Linked DNA regions of Homo sapiens: all the other regions are linked to region 3. The links come from fine-mapping of genetic effects on gene expression. A gene starts in region 3. Each other region holds a variant in brackets. All regions are shown on one strand. Distances are from middle to middle.

Region 1 (8,563 bases), 120 kb after region 3:
TTTTCCAGACCACATTTACTCCCAAGGATATCAGTGTAAGTTAGGTGAATCATCAATAAACCGCTTCTTTTCAGAAACTGTTTTAAGTGCTTTTATATTTATTTATGCTCACAACATTCCTACAGAGTAAGTACAATTACACTCTTCATTTTGCTGAGAACTAGTAAGCTGTGAAGCCACATTTCCAACCCTAGAAGTTGGAGCCCACACTCTCAGCCAGCATACTGTCCTATGGAGTTACTGGATCTGCCATCGCCTGTAACTCTGCCTGCATTAGACTATGTGTCTGAATACTGAATCACAGAGCAAGCAGAGTCCAACTGCCAAAACCAATCAGGTTATTCCTAGTTACACAAAAAGCAGTTACTTTACAGTAAAGGTCATTCATCCAAGGAACACTTCGCTCAGGATATACAATTGATTTTTTTTCCAATACCAAGACCGTGTCCAACCTAGACTGGAGGGTTTTAAAGATTCTGCGATTCAAAATAAGAGCTTGATGGAGTCTTAGAGGAAGCAGGTCTTACACTCAAGGTTTTTATCCTTTTTAAGGATGCCCCAACTCCTCTCATTATGTCTAAAAGCATTGGATAAGGGACCACATACGTTCCCATAGGTTATTAGCTCCAATAGCTGTAAAATCTAAATTCCCAACAAACTGGAGACATTTCAAGAGGCAGAAATCACCCTAGAATACTTTAGGGAAATAATAATGGTCACTTTTAAGTTTTAAAGAAGTGGGTTTTTATTGTTGTTGTTGGTGGTGGTGGTTTTGTTTGTTTTTGAGATGGAGTCTCGCTCTGTTGCCCAGGCTGGAGTGCAGTCATGAAATCTCAACTCACTGCAATCTCTGCCTTCTGCATTCAAGTGATTCTCCTGCCTGAGCCTCCCAAATAGCTGGGTCAACAAGTGTTTGCCACCATGCCCAGCTAATTTTTGTATTTTTAGTAGATACAGGGTTTGGCCATGTTGGTCTCGAACTCCTGCCTCACATGATCCACCTAGCCTCGGCCTCCCAGAGTGCTGGGATTGCCGGCATGAGCAACAGCGACCAGCCTTAAAGATGACCCTACCTTTATTTAAAATGACCCTGCTTGTATTTCCTCCCCTGAATGCCTTAAAGTCCCTGACTTATTTGAAAACTTAGTATTTCGAAACAGTTTCAGAAAAAATTAAAGCCTTAGTGGTTGGTCACACTAAATGGGACCGTCAAAGCTCCTACTGCTCACAAATATTGTTAAAATGGAATAACACGCACTGCTAAAGGGAATTAAAGTCACTCCTATCTTGAATGAACCCTCGACATTTTAAGTTCTGTGTCCTCTGCATAGAATCTTTGTTCTTTGTCTCTCCCTTGTGGCCATTTAGAAAACCTTTCAGCTCCTGATCACCAGTTGAAACAGTGAAATTGTTCCCATTGTGGCAAACACAGTCTCTTGCCGTGGTTTTAATTTAAAAGAGATATTTATGTTACCCTTCCCATGAAGCAATTGACTGGTCAATATGCTCTCTACTTGTGTTATCCATAAAAATTTCCCAAACCAATTTACTTTTAGTGTCAGAAGATGCAACCCAACAATATTCTTTTTTTAATGAAATACACTGTGCTCATAAAAAATGTATCTAAAAGCATATGTACAATTTAAATAATAATTAGAAAGGGAACAATCAGATCAGCAACAGATTAAGAAATAGAATGTTGCCAATAATTGAAGTCCTCCATATGTTCCTCCAAGTTCATTGTCCCTCTCCTACCACCAGATGGAACACTAATCTGACTTCTGTGATCATTCCTTTTGCTCCTTTAGTTTTACTACCTATGTGCACAAACTTAAACTACATAGTTTAGTTTTAACTTGTTTTAAACTGTATAAGAATACAAGAAAGTTATATTATATGTAATCTTTTATGACTTGCTTCTTTAGTGCAATACTGTGACATCGTCTGTGTTGATTTGTGTAGCTCTACTTCATTTTTCTTTCTGCCTAATACTCAGTTATATAACTATAATACAATCAGTTAATCTATTTTGCTGCTGATTGGTTTTTGATTGTTTTTATTTGGGGCCTATCTGATACTACAAACATCCTTTACATGTATATCTGTGCGAGAGTTTCTCTGGCATACCCTAGGAAAGGAATTGCTGTATCGTAGAATATGCATAGCTTCAACCTTCTTAGATAAAACCAAGCTGTAGATAAAGACAAGTCAAAGATAAATCATATCACTTAGAGTATATGAGTTTCCATTGCTCTAGATCCTTAGGAACACTTGATATTATGAAATACTTTTTTTTCCAAAGTGATGAGTGCATAGTAATATATTATTGTGGTTTTAATTTGCATTTTCCTCATTACTAATGATGTTAAGCAGCTTTGCATATATTAACTAAACATTTGATTTTTGCTTTTATTTTGAAGTGCTCATTCCATTTTCTTGTGTATTTTTCTATCGGATTTTCTGTATGTCACAATGTTTTAGATATATAAACTTGGTCAGTTACATGTGTGGCCAACAGCTTTTCCCACTCTGGGCCAATTTTCACTCTTCTTGTGGTGTATTTTAATAAACACAACTTCTTAATTTTAAAGTAGTCAAAGTTATTAATCTTTTTTATGATTAATACTATTTGTACCATGAGTAAAAAAAATTGTTTACCCAAATTCCACAAAGAGATTTTTCTATATTATCTTCAAAGAGTTGTATAAATTTTTAAGTTTAAATGAGTTTTGGGCATAGTGAACTAGGAATACAACTGTAGTTTTTTAAAATATGGATTCCTAATTATAGCACTGTTCATTGAAAGGTTCACTCTTTCTGCCTCATCTACGGGGCCAAAAGTCTGGATCTGTGTGGATCTCTTTGCAGGCTCTCTATTCTTTTCTATTTTTTTTCTTCATCTCTATGCCAATGCTATACTATTGTAATATCTTCATAATAAATCTTGCTAATTATTCTACCTTAGTTTTTGTCAAGAACACACAATTATTCTTGGTTGTTTGTGCTTCCATTTAAATTTTTAAACCAGCTTGTTGCATTCCACTAAAACAAGTGAGTAAACAACTACAATAATGAAAAACCCTGTTGAGATTTTGATTCTAAGTAATTTTTTAAGAATATGCATCAATTAGTGGAGACTTGAATTTTTTTTTTTTTTTGAGGTGGAGTCTCGCTCTGTCGCCCAGGCTGGAGTGCAGTGGCACGATCTTGGCTCACTGCAACCTCCACCTCCTGGGTTCAAGTGATTCTCCTGCCTCAGCCTCCCGAGTAGCTGGGACTACAGGTACCCACCACCATGCCCAGCTAATTTTTGTATTTTTAGTATAGACAAGGTTTCACCATATTGGCCAGGCTGGTCTTCAACTCCTGACCTTGTGATCCACCCACCTCGGCCTCCCAAAGTGTTGGGATTACAGGCATGAGCCACTGTGCCCGGCCGAGAATTGATTTTTTAAAAATTAGTTTTCCAGAGGGGAGGAGGCAAAGCAAGATAGCGGAATAGAAGGCTCCATTGATAGTCTGCCCTGCCACCACAAGGACACCAGGTTAACAACTATCTACACAGAAAAAATACCTTCATACGAACCAAAAATCCGGTGAGCCCTCATAGTACCTGGTTTTAACTTCATATGGCTGAAACAAGCACTGAAGAGATAGAAAAAAAACAGTCCTAAATCAAGTATGCCACCCCTCCTGCACCCTTCAGCAATCATGGCGTGGTGCAGAGAGCGTCTCTAGGTGCTGGGGAAGGAAGAATACAGCAATTGTGAGGCATTGAACTCAGTGCTGTCTTGTTAGAGCAGAAAGGAAAACCAGACCAAACTCAGCTGACACCCACCCACAGAGGGAGCATTTAAACCAGGCCTAGCCAGAGGAGAATCACTGATTCCAACAGTTAGAACTTGAGTGCCTGCAAACTTCACCACCGAGGGCTATAACACTCTGTATCTCCAAGTAAACTTGAAAGGCAGTCTGGGCCATAAAGACTGAAACTCTTAGGTGAGTCCTGGTGCTGAACTAGGCCCAGAGACAGTGAACTGGGACTGCATGTGGCGTACAGAAACACTAGCTGGGGCAGCTAAGGGAGTGCTGGCTTCAACCCTCCCATAAACCCAGGCTGCACAACTTATGGCTCGGAAAGACCTCTCTTTCTTCCAGTTGAAGGTAGGAAAAGGGAGAGTGGGAAAGACTTTGTGATGCACCTAGGATACCAGCTCAGCTACAACAAAACAGGGCAACAGTCAGAGTCACGAGGTCCCCACTGCAGGCCCTAGCTTCCAGATGACATTTCTACACACACCCTGGGCCAGAAGGGAACCTGCTGCCTTGAAAGAAAGGACCCAGTCCTGGCAGCATTTATCGCCTGCTAACTGAAGAGCCCTTGGGCCCTGAATAACCAGCAGCAATACCCAAGTACTACACCAAGGGCCTTGGGTGAGCCTTTGAGGCTTGCTGGCTTCAGGTGAGACTCAGGATATTACTAGCTGCGGTGGCTCTGGGGCAAAACTTCTGCTTGAGAAAAGCAGAGGAAAAAGTAAAGGGAACTTTGTTTTGCACCTTAGGTACCAGCATGGCCACAGAAGGATAAAGAACCAGTCAGGCTCT[C/T]GGGGTCCCCAATTCTAGGACTTGACTCTTGGACAGCATTTCTGGACCTGCCCTGGGCCAGAGGAGCACCCACTGCCCTAACATGGGAGTCCCAGGACAGGTAGCATTTATGACAAGCTGACTTAAGAGATCTTGGGCTTTAAGGGAACTTTGGTGGTAGTCTGGCAGTACTCCTTGTGGCCTGGGTGGTGGTGGCTATGGGGTGAGGCTCCTCTGCCTTTGGAAAGGGGAGGCAAGAGTGGGAAGGACTGCATCTAGTGGTTAGAGTGCCAGTTCAGCTGCAATACAAGAGAGCACCAGGTAGACATCTAAGGGTTTTTACTCTAGTCCCTGACTCCCAGATGGCATTCTGGACCCACTTCTGGGGCTTAGGGGAGCTTGCTGCCCTGAAGGGAAGGGCATAGGCCTGATTGGCTTTGGCATTTACTGATTGTAGAGTCCCAAGGCCTTGAGGTAATGTAGGCAGTAGCCAGGGAGTGGTTACAGCAGACCTTGGGTGAGACCCAGTAAGCACTGGGCTGGCTTCAGGTCTAACCCAGAACAGTCATAGTGGTGGTGGCCAAAGGGGTGCTTGTGCCACTCCGCCCCCAGCTTTAGGTGGCACAGAACAGAGAGAGAGAAATTCTGTACATTTGGGAGAAAGTAAGAAAAGAGAATAAGAATTTCTGCCTGGTAATCTAGAGAATTCTCCTGGATCTTGTCCAAGACCATCAAGGTGGTACTTGTACAAGTCTGCAAGAACCATGATGTTACTGGGTTTGAGATGCCCCTCTAAAGTAGATACAGTTTGGATCACAAGACTCAAGTCCTTTCAGGCATCTGGAAAGCCTTCCCAAAAAGGACAGCTACAAGCAAACCCAGACATTGAAGACGACAATAAATGCCTAACTCTTCAATGCCCAGACAATGAAGAACATCCACTAGCATCAACACCATCCAGGAAAACATGACCTCACCAAACAAACTAAATAAGGCACCCAGGGCCAATTCTGGAGAAACAGAGATACGTAAACTTTCAAACACAGAAATCAAGATAGCTGTGTTGAGAAAACTCAAAGAAATTCAAGATAACACAGAGAAAGAATTCAGAATTCTATCAGATAAATTTAACAAAGAGATTGAAATAACTAAAAAGAATCAAGCAGAAATTCTGGAGCTGAGAAATGCAATTGACATACTGAAGAATGCATCAGGGTCTTTTAATAGCAGAATTGAGCAAGCAGAATAAAGAGCTAATAAACTTGAAGTCAGGTTATCTTGAAAAAACAAGACCCACTCATCTGTTGCCTACAAGAAACACACTTCACCTATAAAGACACACATAGACTGAAAATAAGGGGATGGAAAAAGATATTCTATGCCAATGGAAGCCAAAAAAAGAGAAGAATTCACTATACTTATATCAGACAAAATAGATTTTAAGACAAAAACTATAAGAAGGGACAAAGAAGGACACTATATAATAACGGAGGGCTCGATTCAGCAAGAGGATGTAACAATTTTAAATATGTATGCACCCAACACTGGAGCACCCAGATATATAAAGCAAATATTATTAGAGCTAAAGAGAGAGATATGCCCCAGTGTAGTAATAGCCGGAGACTTCAACACCCTACTTTTAGCATTGGACAGATCTTCCAGACAGAAATCAACAAAAAAAAATCAGACTTAATCTGCACTATAGACCAAATGAACCTATTTACCCAGTAGTCATTTAGGAGGAGATTGTTCAGTTTCCATGTAGTAGTGTGGTTTTGAGTGAGTTTCTTAATCCTGAGTTCTAATTTGATTGTCCTGTGGTCTGAGAGACTGTTTGTTATGATTTCTATTCTTTTGCATTTGCTGAGGAGTGTTTTACTTCCAATTATGTGGTCAATTTTAGAATAAGTGCAATGTGGTGCTGAGAAGAATATATATTCTGTTGATTTGGGGTAGACAGTTCTGTAGATGTCTATTTGGTCCAGAGCTGAGTTCAAGTCCTGAATATCCTTGTTAATTTTCTGTCTTGTTGATCTGTTTAATATCCACAGTAGGGTGTTAAAGTCTCCCACTATTATTGTGTGGGTGTCTAAGTCTCTTTGTAGGTGTCTGAGAACTTGCTTTATGAATCTGGGTGCTCCTGTATTGGTGTATGTATATTTAGGATAGTTAGCTCTTCTTGTTGCATTGATCTTTTTACCATTATGTAATGCCCATCTTTGGTTCTTTTGACCTTTGTTGGTTTACAGTCTGTTTTATCAGAGACTAGGATTGCAATCCCTGCTTCTTTTTTGCTTTCCTTTTTTCTGGGTAGCTTCCTCCATCCCTTTATTTTGAGCCTATGTGTGTCTTTGCAAGTGAGATGGGTCTCCTGAATACAGCATACCACTGGGTCTTGACTCTATCCAATTTGTCAGTCTGTGTCTTTTAATTGAGGTATTTAGCTCATTTACATTTAAGGTTAATATTGTTATGTATGAATTTGATCAAGTCATTATGATGTTAGCTGGTTATTTTGCCTGCTAGTTGATGCAGTTTCTTCATAGTGTTGGTGGTCTTTACAATTTGGTATGTTTTTGCAGTGGCTGGTACTGGTTGTTCCTTTCTATGTTTAGTGCTTCCTTCTGAAGCTCTTATAAGGCAGGCCTGGTGCTGACAAAATCTCTCAGCATTTGCTTCTCTGTAAAGGATTTTACTTCTCCTTGATGTATGAAGCTTAGTTTGGCTGCATATGAAATTCTGGGCTGAAAATTCTTTTCTTTAAGAATGTTGAATATTGGCCCTCACTCTCTTCTGGCTTGTAGAGTTTCTGCCAAGAGATCCACTGTTAGTCTGATGGGTTTCCCTTTGTAGGTAACCTGACATTTCTCTCTGTCTGCCCTTAACATTTTTTCCTTCATTTCAACCTTGGTGAATCTGACAATTCTGTGTCTTGGGGTTGCTCTTCTCAAAGAGTATCTTTGTGGTGTTCTCTGTATTTCCTGAATTTGAATGTTGGCCTGTCTTGCTACGTTAGAGAAGTTCTCCTGGATAATATCCTGAAGAGTGTTTTCCAACTTGGTTCCATTCTTTGTGTCACTCTCAGGTAAACCAATCAAACATAGATTTGGTCTTTTCACATAGTCCCATATTTCTTGGATGCTTTGTCCATTCCTTTTCATTCATTTTTCTCTAATCTTGTCTTCTGCCTTTATCTCATTGAGTTGATCTTCAATCTCTGATATCCTTTCTTCCACTTGATCGATTCAGCTACTGATACTTGTGTATGCTTCACGAAGTTCTCGTGCTGTGTTTTTCAGCTCCATCAGGTCATTTATGTTCTTCTCAAACTGATTATTCTAGTTAGCAATTCATCTAGCCTTTTTTCAAGGTTCTTAGCTTCCTTGCATTGTGTTGGAACATGATCCTTTATCTCAGAGGAGTTTGTTACTACCCACCTTCTGAAGCCTACTTCTCTCAATTCATCAAACTCATTCTCCATTGAGTTTTGTTCCCTTGCTGGTGAGGAGTTGTGATCCTTTGGAGGAGAACAGGCCTTCTGGTTTTTGGAATTTTCAGCCTTTTTGTGCTAGTTTCTCCCCATCTTCGTGGATTTATTTACCTTTGGTCTTTGATGTTGGGACCTTCGGATGAGGTCTCTGAGTGGACATCCTTTTGTTGATGTTGATTCTATTTTTTTCGGTCTGTTAGTTTTCCTTCTAACAATCAGGCCTCTCTGCTGCAGGTCTGCTGGAGTTTGCTGCAGGACCCTCTTTGCCTGGGTATCACCAGCGGAGGCTGCAGAACAGCAAAGATTGCTGCCTGTTCCTTCCTCTGGAAGCTTTGTCACAGAAAGGCACCTGCCAGATGCCAGCCAGAGCTCTTTTGTATGAGGTATCTGTTGGCCCCTACTGGGAGGTGTCTCCCAATCAGGAGACATAGAGGTCAGGGACCCACTTGAGAAGGCAGTCTGATCCTTAGCAGAGCGTGAAGTTCAAGG
Region 2 (8,563 bases), 230 kb after region 3:
GATTGTGAGGTAAGTTGTTTTTTTGTGTAGTTAGAAGAAAGATCTCTGAGAAGTTGAAGATCACCTTCTGCCCACTCCCTATTGAAGACTGACTGCAATGATGTGGGTCAAAGAAAGAAATCATTTTAAGAGTAGAAGCCAAGCAGGAGTACAAAGGCTTTGTAAGGAGTAGAGAACAGAGGAGGGAAATAGTCTTGAAAGAAGGGATAGAGTCTGCTACTTTTGTTGGCAAAAAAGAGTCAACATCTAAGGCCTAGTTACCTGTTGGCCTGTTAGGTACATATATTAGGTGAGGTTTTGACCTTGGGTGAGGACATTGCTTTAAGCACTAAATAGATCAGATTAATCCCGTGAAGAGGAGATAGGAAGTGTTTCTGATAAATACTGCTTTGAAGATTGGCTGCAAGGCCAATACTCATCAGAGAGCTCCAGTTGACTATGGGAGTTAGACAACAGAGGAAAGTAAACTCATGACATATTTCAATTTCTCTTTACAGAAATTCAGACTCAGTGGTGTGGCAGAAGATAAAATAATTTGGGTTATTTCTGTGATAACATGGGCAATCTGGAAACTACTCCCATTTGTGAGGGTAAATCTCTATTATGATACATGGAAAATAGGACAGATGCTAATTCAGGTAAGAAAAGGTCTTTGTATTATACAAATATTTACCTTCAGACAGAAATGTTAATGAAGATGGAGAAGGAACAGTTACCAAGAAACTAGGGATAGTAGGACACAAAAAACCTGGTAACCTGGTAGTGAGTATGAACCAGTCTGGTGCCTTGCCTCCAGAGGAGCAGCAACTGAGCAGAGCTACTGGACAACCAGCCCTGCACTTCCCTAGAGCACAGACCAGCTCACTATGCAGCCACCAAGAGATAAGCACCGAAGGAGAACCTACCAGCCATGGATCCTCAGAAAACAGACCAGCTAAGTGCCCAGCCTTCAGGGGACAAGCAGCTGAGTGGGCATACCAGCCACACAAACTTCTGCAGCCAAGGCCACTGAGGTACTTGCAGGCACCACTGACATTAACTACAGCTAAAGAAGCTGCATGGAGACTACACTACTGCATCCACCCAGAACAAAAACAAATGTACCTTACCCAACCAACATGCTAGGACACATCTGCAGGTGTAAGTCTTTTCCGCTGAAAGTTATGCTACCAAGTTAGAAAAGGTGATTATTCCATCAGATGCACAGATGCCAGTGCAGGGATACAAGAAACATAAAAAAGCAAGGGAACATGACACCACCAAAGAAACACAATAATTCTCTAGTAACTGACCCCAATAAAAAAATAAAAATTTATGAATTGCCTGAAAAGGAATTCAAGATAGTGAGCCTAAGGAAACTTGGTGAGACATGAAAGAACACAAACGGATCATTCAACAATCGGGAAAAACAGTTCATGATCTGAATGAGAAATTCAACAAAGAGAGAGATATCATAAAAAAGAACAAAATAGAAATCTTGGGGCCAAGAAATTCAATGAATGAAATAAAAAAACGCAATTGAGAGCTTCAACAGCAAAATAGATCAAACAGAAGAATTTTTGAACTTGAAAACAGGCCTTTTGAAATAGTCCAGTCAGAGGTAAAGAAAAAAAAAAAGGAATGAAGAAGCCTATGGCATTTATGGGACACCATAAGTGAACAAATGTTTGCATTTTGGCAACTTAAGAAGAAGAGATGAAGAAAGGCAAAGAAAGCTTATTTAACAAAGTAATAGTTGAAAACTTCCCAAGTCTTGGGGAGATATGGACATCCAGATCCATGAAGTTCAAAGGATCCCACAAAGATTCAACTCAAAGAGGTCCTCTCTGAGGCATATAACCAAACTGTCAAAAGTCAAAGACAAAGAAAAAAATACTAAAAGCAGCATGAGAAAAACATCAAGTCACATATAAGGGAATTGCCATTGGACTATTAGCAGATTTCCCAGCAGCAACCTTGCAGGCCAGGAGAGAATGGGATGATATATTTAAAATACTAGAAGAAAAAAAGCTGCTAGCCTAGAATACTATACCAGCAAATCTTTGCTTCAGAAATGAAGGAGAAATAGTCTTTCCCAGATCAGCAAAAGTTGAGGGAACTCATTACCACTGGACCAGACTTACAAGAAATGCTTGAGTATTTCTATTGGAAAAAAAAGTTTTCATGATAATTGCTACCATAAAAAAACATGAAGTATAAATCTCACTGCTGGAGATAAATGCATTATCAAATTCATAATGCTTCATTACTGCAATGGTGATATGTAATGTTTCAAACCTCTAGTATGAAGGTTAAAGGCCAAAACAGCTGGGTGCTGTGGCATGTGCTTGTAGTCCCAGTTATTTAGGAGGCTGAAATGGAAGGCTCATTTGAGCCCAGGGGTTTGAGTCCAACCTGGGCAACATAATGAGACCCCATTTAAAAAATAATAATAATTAAAAAAATGCAGCTCTGTGGGATGCCAAAAAGTGAAAATTGTAATAATGATTATAGCAATGATAAGTTGTTAAGGAATAAACAATATATAAAGATGTATATTAAAGCAACAAAATTATAAATTTGGGTGCAGAATGAAAGTCTAGAGTATTGGTATGCAATGAAAGTTAACTTGTTATCAGCTTAAAATAGTCTATTATAAGTATGAGAGATTTTTAATGTAACCCCAATACTAATCACAAAGAAAAAATTACAACAGATATACAAATGAGAAAGAGAAAGGAATCAAAGCTTAACACAACAAATACCCTAATCAAGCCACAGAGATAAACATGAGAGAGGAAGAAAGGAACAAAGGATAAACAAAACAACCAGAAAATAATGAACAAAATGGCAGAAGTCCTTACCTATCAATAATAACTTTGAATGTAAATGAAATAAATTCCCAATTAAAACATACGCCGTGGCTGAATGGATTAAATTAAAAAAAAAAAAAAACAAGATTCAGCAACATGCTGCCTACCAGATAGGCACTTCACCTATAAGGCCACACATAGACTGAAGTGAAAGAAGAGAAAATGAAATTCTGTGAAAATGGAAACCAAAACAAAGCAGGGGTAGTAATACTTACATCAGACAAAATAGACTTTAAGTAAAAAACTGTCAAAAGAGAAAAGAAGGTCATTATATAAAGAAAGATAAAGAAATCAGTTCAGCAGAAGGTTAGGACAGTTGTCAGTATATGAGCACACAACACCAGAACACCCAATATATAAAGTAAATATATAAAGCAAATATTATGAGATCTAAAGGGAGAGAAAAATTAAAATAAAATAAAAAAGGACTTTAGCACCCTCTTTCAGCAATGGATGGATCATCTAGATAGAAAATCAACAAAGAATTATCAGATTTAAATTACATTCTAGACCAAATAGCCCCAGCAGATATTTATAAAACATTCCCCTCAATAACTACTGAATGTACATTTTGCTCAACAGCACATGGAACTTTTCTCCACGATAGAATATATGTTAGTCCACAAAACATATCTCAAGCAATCAAAAAAATCAAAATCTTATCAAGTATCTTCTCTTACCACAATGCAATAAAAACTAGAAATGAATACCAAGAGGAACTATGGAACATATACGAATATGTGAAAACTAAAAACAAGTTTTTACAAAACCAGGGCATCAATAAAGAAATTAAAAAGAAAATTTAAAAATTCCTTGAGACAAATAAAAGGAAACATAATGTACCAAGACCTATGGGATACAGCAAAAGCTATTCTAAGAGGGAGTTTATAGCAATAGATGCCTACATCAAAAAAGTATAAGAATCTTTTATAAAAACTTTATGTGGCACCTCAAGGAATGAGAAAAACGAGGGCCAGCTGAACCCTAAACTACTAGAAGAGAAGACTGATAAAGATCAAGCAGAAATAAGTGAAATAGAGCCTGAAAATAATATAAAAATCAGTAGAACAAAAAGTTGGTCCTTTGAAAGATAAACAAATGTTTTAGCTAGACTAACAAAAAAGAGAAGACTCAAATAAATATAATCAGAGCTAAAAAAGGAGATGTCACAGAAATACAAAGGATCATAGAAGACTTTTATGAGCAATTATATGCCAATAAACTGGAAAACCTAAAAGAAATAAATAAATTCCTGGACACATGCAACCTACCAAA[G/A]TTGAACTACTATGAAGAAATAAAATACCTACACAGGCCAATAATGTGTAACAAGAATGAATCAGTAATAATAAGTCTCCCGTCAAAGAAAAGCCCAGGAACTGATGACTTTACTGCTAAGTTCTACCAAACATGTAAATAATAATATCACTTCTTTTCAAACTATTCTAAAAAGTTGAAGAGGTGCAAATTCTTCCACACTCATTCTATGAGGCCAACATTATCAAAACCAGACAAGGATAACTTGATAAAAAGAAAACTACAGGCCAATCTCCTTTATCAACATAGATGCAAAAATCTTTAACAAAATATAAGTGAAACAAATTCAACAGCATATTGAAAAAATAATTCACCACAATCAAGTGAGATTCATCCCAGGGATGCAAGGATGGTTTAACATATGTAAATCACAAATGTGATACATCACATTAACAGAATGAAGGACAAAAATGACATAATCATTTTAATAGACAAAGAAAAAAATTTGATAAAATTTAACATCCCTTCATGATAAAAATTCTCAGCAAATGAGATGTAGAAGTAATATACCTCAACACAATAAAGGCCATAAATGAGAAGCTCATAGATAACATCATACTGAAGAAGTTGAAAGCTATTCCTCTATGATCTGCAATAAGACAAGGATGCCGCATTTATCACTTTTGTTGAACATACTACTGGAAATCCAAGCCAGAGCAATTAGGCAAGAGAAATGAAAGGCATCCAAATAGGAAAGGGGGAAGTCAAATTGTCCTTGTTTGCAGATGACATTATCTTATATATAGAAAATCCTAAAGATTCCACAAAAAACTGTTAGAATAAATAAATTCAATAAAGTTGCAGGATACAAACTCAACATGCAAAAATCAGTAGTGTTTCTATATGCCAGTAGCAAGCTACCTAAAAAAAGATATCAAGAAAGCAATCCACTGACAATAGCTATAAAATAAATACCCAGGAATATAGTTAACAAAGGAGGTGAAACATCTTGAGTGGAAACTATAGAATATGGATAAAATAAATTGAAGAGGACACAAATAAATAGAAAGATAATAATGAATTGCAAAAATTAATATTGTCAAAATGTCCATATTATCCAAAGCAATTTACTAATTCAATGCAATCCCTATTCTTCACAGAAATAGAAAAAAAAATCCTAAAACTTCTATGGAACCACAAAAGACCCCAAATAGCCAAAGTAATCCTTAGCAAAAATAAAGCTCGAGGCATCACACTACCTGACTTTAAAATATACTATAAAGCTATAGTAACCAAATCAACATGGTACTGGTATAAAAATAGACACATAGATAACTGAAACAGAATACAGAACAGAAATAAATCCATGCACTTACAGCCAACTGATTTTCAACAAAAGTGTCAGCAACATGCATTAGGAAAAGGAGAGGCTTTTCAATAGATGGCACTGGGAAAACTGAATATCCACATGTAGAAGAATAAAATTAGACCCCTGTCTCTTACCATATGTAAAAATTAGTTCAAAATTGATTAAAAACTTTAATGTAAGACCTGAAACTGTAAGCATCCTAGAAGAAAACATGGGAGAAACAATTCATGACATTGGTCTCGGCAAGAATTTTTTGAATAAGACCTCAAAAGCATACAACAAAAGCAAATATAGAGAAATGGTACTATATTAAACTAAAATGCTTCTGTACAGCAAAGGAAACAGATTGAAGTTAACTTAAGGAATGGGAGAAAACATATGCAAACTATGCATCTGACAAGGGGTTAATGCCTAGAATATATAGAAAAATAACTCAATAGCAGAAAAATAAATAATTCCATTTAAAGATGGGCAAAATGCCTAAATAGACATTTCTCTAAAGAAGACATACTAATGCTTAGCATCACTAATCATCAGGGAAATGCAAATAAAACCATAATGACATATCACCTCAGTCCAGTTAGAATGGCTATTATCAAAAAGACAAAAAATAACAAATGTTGGGGTAGATGTGAAGAAAGAGGAAGTCTCATATGCTGTTGTAAATTAGTCCAGCAATGATGGAAAACAGAATGAAGGTTCCTAAAAAAGTTAAAAAATAGAAGTACCATATGATCCAGAATCCCACTACTGAGTATATATCCAAAGGAAATAAAATCAGTTATGTGGAAGAGATATCTGCATTCCCATGTTTATTGCAGCATTATTCACAGTAGTTGCATGGAATCAACCTAAGTGTCCATCAGTGGATGAATGGATAAAGAAAATGTGGTGTATATATACAATGGAAGACTATTCAACCATAAAAAGAAATTTTGTCATTTGTGGCAACGTAATTGGGCCCAGAGGACATTATGTTAAGTAAAATAAGCCAGGCATGTAAAGACGAATACTGTACAATCTCACACAAAAGTGGATTCTATAATTTAAAAAGTTGATTTAATAGCAGCAGAGCGTAGAATAGTGGTTGCCAGAGGCTTGGGAGGGTAGTGGGGCAGGGGAGATGGGGATAGACTGGTCAACAGGTACAAAGGTTCAGTTAGATAGGAATAAGTTCTGGTGTTCTATTGCACAGTAGGGTGACTATAGTTAACAATATTATATTGTATATTTCAAAATAGCTAGAAGAGAGGATTTTGAATGTTCTTACCACAAAGGGATGATAAATGTTTGAGGTGAAAAATATGCTAAATACCCTGATTTGATCATCACAAAATATATACGTGTATCAAAACATCACACTATACCCTATAAATATGTACAATTATTATGAGTCAATTAAAAGTAAAATAAAACTTAAAAAAAAGAAACTTGGTGGCCTAAAGATTTCCACTAGATAGTTGGCTGTTTCTCCCAAGTACAGGGTTAAAAATAGCTGAAAAGAGGTTACGATGTTCAGGGAAAGTAGCAAAGAGTACACCAGGGAGACTGACAGATGGACAGAAATGCTCTGACACTAGCTGGCCTCATATAAGACTAAAACTTATTAAAGCTGTCAAATGAAGGGGAGTGCAGGAAAGCTTAGGGCCCTGGATGGTCCTTCTTGAAATGTTTCCCAGAACAGGGGCAAACATCAAAGGCCTTCTTGGAAAAGAATGAAGTTGGCAAACTTCATTCAATGCTGTATTGGACATTCCTTCATTCAACAAATATTAAAACCCACTAGATGGTAAGCTTACTCAGCAGACATGGTGAGATCAGCAGTAGGCTTTGTTTTTTGTGGAACACCTATACAAACAAAAGAATGTGAAGTGTGTTTTAATAACTGGAAGATACTTAATCTGGTTGGAAATAGAGACTTGTGGGGAGATATCATGAGCCTGGACACATCAAGTGGACCTAGATACTTGAGGACCTTGAAAACCATTTTAAAGGCTTTAGCTGGGTTGCATCTTAATCAATGTGAAGTCACTGGAAGATTTTTATTTGGGTTTATTAAAAATTTTTTCAAAGTAATACATGCACAAGGTAAAAAATTAAATAGTACAGAAGGACTTAAAATGAAAAACACAGTTTCCCATCCCACCCTTTTTAAATCTAAATCCCATTCCCTAGAGGTAATGCTTTTAACAATATTTATTTTAGATCGTCTGGTAACTTTCTAACTTTAAATAATATGTTTGAGCAATAATTTCTTGACTTACTGACTTTACAACATCTTTAATAATTCCCCATTACAAAAGATAAGGATTTAACTTACACTATCGCCACTTTCCTTTGTCCATCTCTCTCCAAATGTCTGATAGTTACATCACTTTTTAATACATCTATTGGTTTGATTTTATAGCTTTGAACAATACACTAATCCTCTAGTTCTTGTTCCATTAACTGAAGATCTTTTCATCCCCACTTTGAATATATAAGTATCTCTACCTTTGATTCCACTTCTCTTCCTCTAATTCTCAATCTCTTTCTGCTTTCTTTCCCTTTGTCAGCATTAATTACTTTCAACTTCAGTTCTGAATAAAAAATGAAACCTTTCACACTTTGTTAATAGGCTGATCTGAACATTGAATACTAATAAATGATATCCACATTATTTTGGCTATTTAAATACTTCTTACTGGGAGCCTAGTATAAGCTAGGATATTTTCTTCCCTACACACCCAATATCATCATGCCTGTGCCATAGAAAAGGAAATGTACCTATCAAGCCTCTTCTTATTCTTCATGAATAACTCAAAATCATGCCTCATTTTATTTTGCTCTATAATTGGACCTGAATTTTTTGACATATTGTTGATTTGTCTTTCTTTTTTCTTGACTAAATAATCTTCTCAAGCATCCCAGCTCTTCAATGATACTATCTATGGCACTGAATGCACATTCTTCCCAGAAAGCCCGAGACAGTATGCTCTCATCTGAAATTAGTCTGCTGGATAGCTGTCACTCTAGGGTGAGATACCCTTTTGGCTGTCACTCTAGAATGAGACATCCTAAGTAAGGTCCACTGTTTTATGGATCCCAT
Region 3 (8,563 bases):
GAGGAACATTTTCATCACCACCATAGTACTCATTCTTAAGGCAGCTGTAGACACCTGTTCTGGATCATCTTAAATAGTGACTTAGTGAACTTCCCCAGTGACTCATACCAGTAAATGTCCATAGGTGGATTCATCCATCTCTGTTCCTAAATTAGAGTGTGGCTAATTCTTCCCAGATTCTTAAGGTCCTTAAAAGAAAGAATATATGGTACCACATTAAGTTAAGCTCATGACTGAAAATAATTTAAGAAGGAGGCCAGTGACTATTAATAGTAGCCCACAATTAGAAGGCATATGTATGAGTAACCCCTGCATCTGGCTTAGTGATAAACTGCAATTACTGCAGCAATTGCTCTCTATTTGACAAAAAATGGACTCATGTACCACTGGTAAAGATAATATTTCTGATTTGTGTTTGCCTCTTGTATATGCTGGACAATGAAGTATAATATTGTTTATGTATATTTATTACGTATAACCCAGAAAGAGTCTGTCATGGAAGCACAAGAAGTATGAGTTAGCCTGCCTGATTTAAGCTAATACAGATCTATCCTTGGAAATGGAGATGAATTCATTGTCCCCTGAATCTCATAAAGGAGAGGTGGATTATCTGATTTAAAAAAAAAATGGATTTGGTTAGAAAGGACAATAGGGGTAGTGTAGGGAATAGATGTTGAGGAGGCAACCACAGTGTTTACTAAATGGTGCTTTTAAAAAATCTTCCTCCACACTGTAGAATGGAATCCAAACTCCCTAGTATGGCAGCCAAAGTCCCTCTAAACCGAGCCCAAACTTCTCTTTAGAGCTAGCACTATGCAAGTTCTGCTAACAAGTTTCAGTCACTATGAACATTTTGTCTTTCTCAAATTAAGCCTTTCACATTCATATCTCTGTGCTTTGGAATCTTATACAGCCTCACATTGTAATACCTTCCCCTTTATCTCCCCGCAAATATACATTTTTCTAAGCTGAGTTTCTGTGTCACCTTCTGTGCACATTCTTCTCTAATCCTTTGATCAGAAATAATTGCTGCTTCTTTTATGTGCCCTTGCACCTGATTCGTAGCCAATTTTGGTATAGTTGTTTTCTTGTCTTTTTTCCTCTCTAGATTTACTGACCATAATAGCATTTCTATCTCCCAGAGTGCCTCACAGAATAAGTGTCCAGTAAGGATATGTTGACTTTCACTGAATGGCGTCTGTTTTCTCCCAAGTAAAAGGAAAGATCTGGGGCCTGCACCTTTGCATAAGCAGTAACCATTTCGAAGCTTATCCAACCCACCTTATTTTCGTTGTTGTTGTTGTTGTTCCGTTTTCTTTTATTTTAGGTTTCTAGCTGCCTGAACTCACGGTTTTTAGTTTCTGTCTCTAGTGAAAGGGGAAAAGAGGGATGAGGAAGGGGTTTTACTCGCCTAACCAAAAACAGAAACTAAGAACCCATGACTGTATTCTCTCTCGGACACCCTTTAGTCAGAACGTAAATGCTGGTTACCATCTTTAATCTTTTTTTTCTTCTTTTTTTTTTTTTTTTTTTTTTTTAGGAACCGTTATGCCGTTCCTATGTTGTTAGGTTCCATTCCTCAGGCAGCTCCTGCTCCCAAATGGCAGGTACTTTCTGCTCTCTGACCCTGGAAAAATCACCTTTGTTTAAAGCCCCTTTCTTCTATTAGAGCAACACCAAAATACTCTCAGGAGTTAATTTAGAACAATAGTAGTACTTTACCATGAGGAGTGAGGTTGATGTAGGTGGAGACTGGTTAAAACCTAAGAGTACAAACACACAAAAGATACCGAGCCAGCTTTTTGTTGTTGTTGTTGAGACGGAGTCTCGCTCTGTCGCCCAGGCTGGAGGGCAGTGGCATGATCTCTGCTCACTGCAACATCCGCCTCCCGGGTTCAAGCAATTCTCCTGCCTCAGCCTCCCGAGTAGCTGGGATTACAGGCCTGTGCCACCACGCCCGGCTAATTTTTGTATTTTTAGGAGAGACGGGGTTTCTCCATGTTGGCCAGGCTGGTCTTGAACTCCTGACCTCAGGTGATCCACCCACCTCGGCCTCCCAAAGTGCTGGGATTACAGGAGTGAGCCCCCGCACCCGGGCCTGAATCAGCTTTTAACGTGGAACTTTACTGACCCACTTTCTTTGATGTCCATCTCCCACTTCAGCTCCCAAAGGTCAGTTGTTCCCTGATATGAAGCCTAAGAACTCAACGTACTTCACCGCACGTTGGATTTCTAGCCGGAATTATTCCAAATTCTGGCAAGTCTTATCCACAATTTCTTTTCTGTGTAAGTTTCTCCTTGCTCTTTATTTCTGAAACCTGAATGTATTTGGTCCTCTGCCAATCAGATTTCCACTAGTCCTCCGAAGAGTCAGTTATTAACTCACTAATTCGACAGATATTTTTGGACGTTCACTATATCCTTATTTATTTAGCATATATTTAGTTATTTATTAAGAAACTAAAGCCTATTCTATGTCAGAAATGAAAATAGGCAATGAGGACTCAATGGTGGGCAAAATGCAGACAGACTACTTTTTTCCCCTCATTCTAGCACAGTCATCACTTTCCTAGGTAAGACGTTCCTAAACTCCAGACTACACCAAATCCTCCTCCTGACCACACCCTTCCACCTTGATTTTCACCTTCTGACCTCTCTTGCGTAGAAATTCGAGCACCAGCCACTCTATAGCTTTAGCTTAATTTCTCCAGCCATGCACGGACGAATCTGTGTTAGTGATGCCACAGGCACGTTTCCCTCCCAGCAAGAATATAACTTGCTGGGCAGCATTTCTGTGGATACTTTGAGAGAAAAATGCCCTAGTTGAGCACCCCGCACCATGGCCATAAGCATCCACCGGGCTCGAAGTGCATGGCCCGCAGCTGACCACTAGGGGGCAGCCCTCCACGCAGAGGCTCGAGCGACGGAGGCGACGCGGCGGCTACCGGCTCTGCTGAGCCCACCCCAAGATCGGAGGGAAGGGAGCCTGATTCCACGCGGGGCCTCCCCCGTGGCATACGTTGTTGTTAGGGAACTATTCGCCCCAAATATGGTTTATTGGAGACTTAGGGTTTGCTTTTCTTATCAAGTGCGACAGCAAACTGGCTGGGTCCCCTCTCGCATCCAAGAACCCGCAGAGACCCTGAGGGAGCCGGTTTGGGGCCCCATGCAGGCCAAAGCATCCCTCCGGGAAGGCGGGGTCGCTCACCTGGTAGGCGCCCCGAGAGCCCGCAGCACGGCCCGAGGTGGGGTCCACCGATGGAACGGGAGACCACGGGCGTGGCTCAGGGAGCGGTAGCCGCGCCCCGGGCCCGCCTCAGGGTCGGCTCCGCCTCACCCCAGCCTGTGCCCCGCCTCCGGGACAGCCCAGTTTCCGAGACCTCCTAGCCTCCAAGACAGCCCCGCCGCCAGAACAGCCTCTCCTCCAGGACCGGCCAGCCTACGAGAGAGCCCCGCCTACGGTACAACCCGCCTCCGGGACCGCAGGACTCCACCTCCGAGACAGCTCAGTCCCCAGGACAGTCCCGCCTCCGAGACGGCCCCGCCTCCAGGACGGCCCCTACCTCCGAGACCGCCCCGCCTCCGGGACCGCCCCGCCCCGCCTCGCCTCCGACCCGTCCCCCGCGCGCCACTGCAGAGCCTGTCCGTCAGTCCCTAGGTATCCGCACTGCTCAGGGGTGAGTTTTCCAATCCCAGCGGGTCCTGGGGTGGGGGCGGTAGCTGAGCACCTAGGGCACTGGGGGTCGCCGCAAAGTGCTGGAGGCCCCAGACCATACCCGGCGTCAGGGGGTGTCCCTCCCTTCTTAGGTCTAGGTCTTTGGTTTCATTTCGTTTTGTTAGTCTGGTGCTATTTGCAGTTTGTCTCAAAACACGTTTCTCCCTCCTATTTGAACTTGTAAATTACGAATTTGACAAAGATGTGCATGGTGTGTGCGTGCACGAGGGCACATTTCGTTGCGGAATGCTGGGTCAGCTTTCCGGGACATATTACTCATCTGAGGTTTTTTGTCTGTTTTTGTTTATCCTGTCAAACTGGTACTGCCCCAGAAGTGAAAGACGTCGCTTGTCTTCTGGGAGGTAGCTAGCACGATCTTGAGCTCAGGCTTCCGGATCTCTCTCGGCTGCTTTTTTCCACTGGTAACTTCTGAGGCTGAGATCAGGTACCCGCATTCTCAATGCTCTGCCGAGTATTGGCTCTCTTTTGTGAATTTCTTTCCCGCGAGCAGTATTAAGAAAAAGGTGGCGGATAGGAAGGGAAGAGGGGAAGAGATGGAATTCTACAGGAAATGCAGGGCATGCTCAGAATGCCAACCTTTCCGAGCTTGGAGAGATTTAGTGGAAGAAAGTAGCAGGAAAAACGTCCAGTAATCACTGGCATGCCAGACCCTGGAGAAGCCAGGCTGAGGCGCTCTGCAAGTTTCACCTTAGAGAGAGTGGACGAAATGTAACGGTTCTTGTTAGAGTTCTTGTAGAGGACGATTGTGGATGAGAATACATCCTGGGGACTAAAACCATATTGGTTTAGTCTGGAATGATTGCCAACTAAAGGGACTGATGTTTGAGAGAGATGGTGAGAGATTAACCAAATGAGGTGGTTGACTGCATATAGAAGCAGGAGGGAGAGAGGAAGGAGGCACTTGTGGCTCAAGGGCTTGGTGTGTGTTTTAGTTTAGATTCTGCCCTAAAGCAAAGCCTTATGCAAGGGCTTACCTGCAGGTAATTTTTTGGGGGTAAGTGAGACCAAAAAGCCCAAATGAGGAAGTGGAGAGAATGAGACAAGGAAAAAAGGGAAAGCCAGGAGGAGCATGTGGCTGAGGGTCTTCCACATGGCGCTCCTTTCCTCCGGGTGCCTTCCGAGGACCTCTGATGGGCACCTCGGGAAAGCCACGGGGCACTCTTCTGTGAATCCCCGCTCTACTGGGCGAAGCTCACCCTAGTGTCAACTCACCGCTACTTCAGGGCTGCCTTGTGCACCTGCAGAGGTGAGAAGCCATCAGAGCACAGAGGAAAGTCCCTTACAGTGGGCTCGTCAGAGACGCGCAAAGGGAGGCGGCACAGGCAGCCAGGGGACTACTGCACTACTGCAATCTGCAACGCTGCCCTCGGCAACCCGGGAAACTTAAAAGGACAGCAAAGGGACAGACACTCTCGTTTATTCCGTGCTCACTGTATGTGTACCAACCCCAGACAAGGCATTTTTAGACATATTCTTTGCTTTATTTTATTTTACTTTACTTTATTTTATTTTATTTTATTTTATTTTATTTTTTGAGGCAGAGTCTTGTTCTCTCGCACAGGCTAGAGTCCACTGGTGCGATATCGGCTCACTGCAACCTCCGCCCCCCACCGTCAGGGTTCAAGAAATTCTCATGACTCAGCCTCCCCAAGTGGCTGGGATTACAGGTGCACGCCACCATGCCCAGCTATTTTTTGTAGATTTAGTAGAGACAGGTTTCGCCATGTTGGCCAGGCTGGTCTCAAACTCCTGAGCTCAGGTGATCCACCGGCCTCGGCCTCCTAAAGTGCTGGGATTACAGACATAAGCCACTGCGCCTGGCCTATCCATATTCCTTTAATCTTCAAAAACAATCTTCCCATGGCTGTATTATTCTCTTTTTGTAGATGGGGAAACTGAGACTGAAGTCATTTATCCAAGAGGGGCTGCTTAAAGGGACAAATAGTCTCAGTGTTAGGCACAGCCAATTTTAAAAGACCTCCGGAAACTGCATAATGCTACCAAATAGAGGAGGGTCCTCTCCATTAGGGCAGATTTGATAAATTAGGGGGCACTTTCCAACTTAGCAAAGCTGTCAGAAGAAAGGCATGTTTTGACAGGTCTATGACCTTTCTGTTCAAAAAAATCAAGCACTGTGTCCACTCAGGCACACGAACTTAACTATCACCTTGATTTACTGGCCCTGCAGGATCTAGCCCGTCCCTCCCTCCTCCTGGGGTCCTGCTCCTCCCTGCTCCTGGCTCTCAGCCACCCCAAAGTGGTCTCGTTGCTGGAATGCCCTTTGCTCACTGCATTTCAGGTTTCAGCTTCAATGCCACTTTGTCAGAGTCCTTTCCTATCACCCAATCTAAAGTAGTCTTCCAGTTCCTCCATGTCACATCATTGTGTTTTATTTTCATCATAGTGATTGTTGCATTTTATTTATCTGTTTATCTACCTATTTATTCATTATCTTTCTCCTTCTAAAATATTCAAATCACGAAAAGGGAAACCTTATCTGTTTTGTTTCTTGCTGTACTCCCAGTGCTAGAACAGTGCTTGGCCCACAATGGGGAATCCAGTAAAATTTGGAGGTGAATGCATTTAGTTGTTTGCTTTTTTCACCTGTTCCTTCATCTGTTCTGACCAGCAGTGCTTATCAGTATCTCTTAAATACATGAAAGTCTTTGCTTCCCCCTGCAGCAGCTGATAGAACCATGGCGACCATTGCTGCTGCTGCGTTTGAGGCCCTCATGGATGGAGTGACATGCTGGGATGTCCCCAGAGGCCCCATCCCCAGTGAACTCCTTCTTATTGGAGAAGCCGCCTTCCCCGTGATGGTGAATGACAAGGGCCAGGTGCTCATTGCTGCCTCCTCCTACGGCCGAGGCCGCCTCGTGGTTGTGTCCCATGAGGGCTACCTGTCGCATGCTGGCTTGGCTTCATTTCTCCTCAATGCAGTGAGCTGGCTCTGTCCCTGTCCTGGGGCTCCCGTGGGAGTGCGTCCATCCCTGGCACCTCTAGTAAACATCCTACAGGATGCTGGGCTTGAGGCACAGGTCAAGCCAGAACCAGGAGAGCCCCTAGGGGTTTACTGTATCAATGCCTACAATGACACCTTGACTGCAACGCTGATCCAGTTTGTGAAACATGGAGGGGGCTTGTTAATCGGGGGCCAGGCCTGGTACTGGGCCAGCCAGCACGGCCCTGACAAGGTGCTCTCCAGGTTCCCTGGGAACAAGGTGACAAGTGTAGCCGGAGTGTACTTCACTGACACCTATGGGGACAGAGACCGGTTCAAGGTCTCTAAGAAGGTGCCCAAGATCCCACTCCATGTCAGGTGAGTGTTTGTTCCCCTCTTAGGGAGTCTGACTCAGGATAAACAATAGAGTTGGTTCCCCTCTTCAACAAGCTTCCATTGCAATACAGGTGATTTTCCACTCAGTTTGGAACCACCACAAATCAAAAGCAGGATGATTAAAATGCACCAAGACACAAGAGAGGCTGGGCCCTCACTGCCACTCCCTCCTGTGGCCAAAGCTGAATAGAAAAGCTTGTCTTACCACTTTATCTCCATGTCTAGTAAATAGAACCTAGAGAGTGCTCATCAATACCTCTTAAATGCATGAAAGAATATTTGTTTGTTTGTGTGAGCACCGATTGTTGATCATGCTGCATTCTGGACAATGGGGGTCTAGCAGAGATCGAGGCAGGCAAGTCATGCCATCATGAGGTTTGTATTCCAGGGGAGAGATAGGTATTAAGGAAACTAATATATATGTGCTCTATCAGGTATTGCTAAGATCCATGAAAGATGATAATATAAGTGGATAGCATGACAACAGGAAGGCTGATGGAGGCTATTTTATTTAAGATGTTCAGGGAAGTCCTATCAGTCAGACCAAGTTGGATTGGTCAGGATTTGTTGGCGTTGCTAGCAGAAGGGATTTAGTATGGGGAATTGACTATACCCATGATAGAGGAGCTGAAAATACACACAGGGGACAGCAAGTAACCCAGAGATCAGCAACAGCAGAACCAGCAGAGGGAGATGGTGGTATTACTGAAGTCCAGGTGCTGCGGCCACCTGGTAGAAGCTGGAGCCATGCTATGCCTTCCCAGCAGGAGCTGGAACCACAGATGAAAGGTCTGTCTGCTAGAAGCTGGAGTCTCAGAGAAGACACTGTGGTTACCAGAAATACAGCCTGAAGAGAGAAGCAAGCACTTAAACTCCTTCCTTCTTCCTTCCTGATTTCAGTCTTCTACCTCTCTCTCCCATGGGCTGAACCCACCAGGATCCAGGGAACAGGAGAACCAAAGAAATGCAGTTTTCTGCAACACGGAGGATGACCAAGATGAAAGGGGAATAGAGATGAGTGCAAACAAGCTCATGGCCGGCTTGGAAGGCTGGTCTGGTAGGTAGCACTTGAAAGGAGACCTCAAGGAAGTGAGGGAATGAGCCATGTGGGCATCTGTGAGAGGAAGATTCCAGGCAGAGTGAGGAGTGAGGGTGAGAAAACCTGGAAGGGAAGCCTGCTTAGTATGTTCCAAGGGAAAGGGAGTGGCCCTTCTATAAGGTCGGAAGGCTCTGCAAAGCTCCAGGGGAGAATAGCTGAAGGCAGCTGTTCTGTGACCCTGAGGCAGAGGGCAAGGAGTAGGTACAAGGGAGTGTAGGAGAATTTGTCTTGATCAAGCCTGTTTGTTTGAAGTTGTCCAGGAGCTGACATTTGAACATCCGCACACATGATGTTCTCTGAATGAGGAACAATAAATGTTAGTCATTTACAGATTGTGTAGGCTCCAGGCTTTCGGCATTATGCCTGCAGTAAATAAAAGCAAGCAGCTTCA

Direction of the effects. Alleles are on the strand shown, and positions count from the first base shown. SD is a standard deviation of normalised expression in the study named.
As copies of T replace C in region 1, the expression in thyroid of the gene that starts at base 3,631 in region 3 goes up (moderate effect, 0.65 SD a copy in GTEx).
In carriers of allele A in region 2, the expression in fibroblasts of the gene that starts at base 3,631 in region 3 tends to be lower than with G alone (small effect, 0.17 SD a copy in GTEx).

What was found. PIP is the estimated chance that this variant, and not a neighbour inherited with it, causes the effect. A credible set is the group of variants that fine-mapping cannot tell apart.
Region 1: its variant is the best candidate, but not a certain one, in a credible set for the expression of TCAF2 in thyroid (GTEx, PIP 0.55).
Region 2: its variant is the best candidate, but not a certain one, in a credible set for the expression of TCAF2 in fibroblasts (GTEx, PIP 0.73).

Annotation. Positions count from the first base shown.
Region 1 is chr7:143,735,870-143,744,432 of GRCh38, forward strand. No RefSeq gene overlaps it. Among named protein-coding and RNA genes, the nearest start is that of CTAGE6, 18 kb to the right of the region's middle. The variant C/T (reference allele first, on the strand shown) is at 4,606.
Region 2 is chr7:143,843,865-143,852,427 of GRCh38, forward strand. It overlaps LOC112267988 (a long non-coding RNA gene), which reads left to right. Exons shown (of 3, transcript XR_007060571.1): 2 at 498-638. TCAF1 (TRPM8 channel associated factor 1) reads right to left here. Exons shown (of 9, transcript NM_014719.3): 9 at 7,511-8,563. Among named protein-coding and RNA genes, the nearest start is that of TCAF1, 54 kb to the right of the region's middle. The variant G/A (reference allele first, on the strand shown) is at 4,128.
Region 3 is chr7:143,617,344-143,625,906 of GRCh38, forward strand. It overlaps TCAF2 (TRPM8 channel associated factor 2), which reads left to right and starts at 3,631. Exons shown (of 8, transcript NM_001363538.2): 1 at 3,631-3,677. It overlaps LOC101928466 (a long non-coding RNA gene), which reads right to left and starts at 1,366. Exons shown (of 4, transcript XR_007060573.1): 1 at 1-1,366. RefSeq lists a silencer at 3,536-3,695.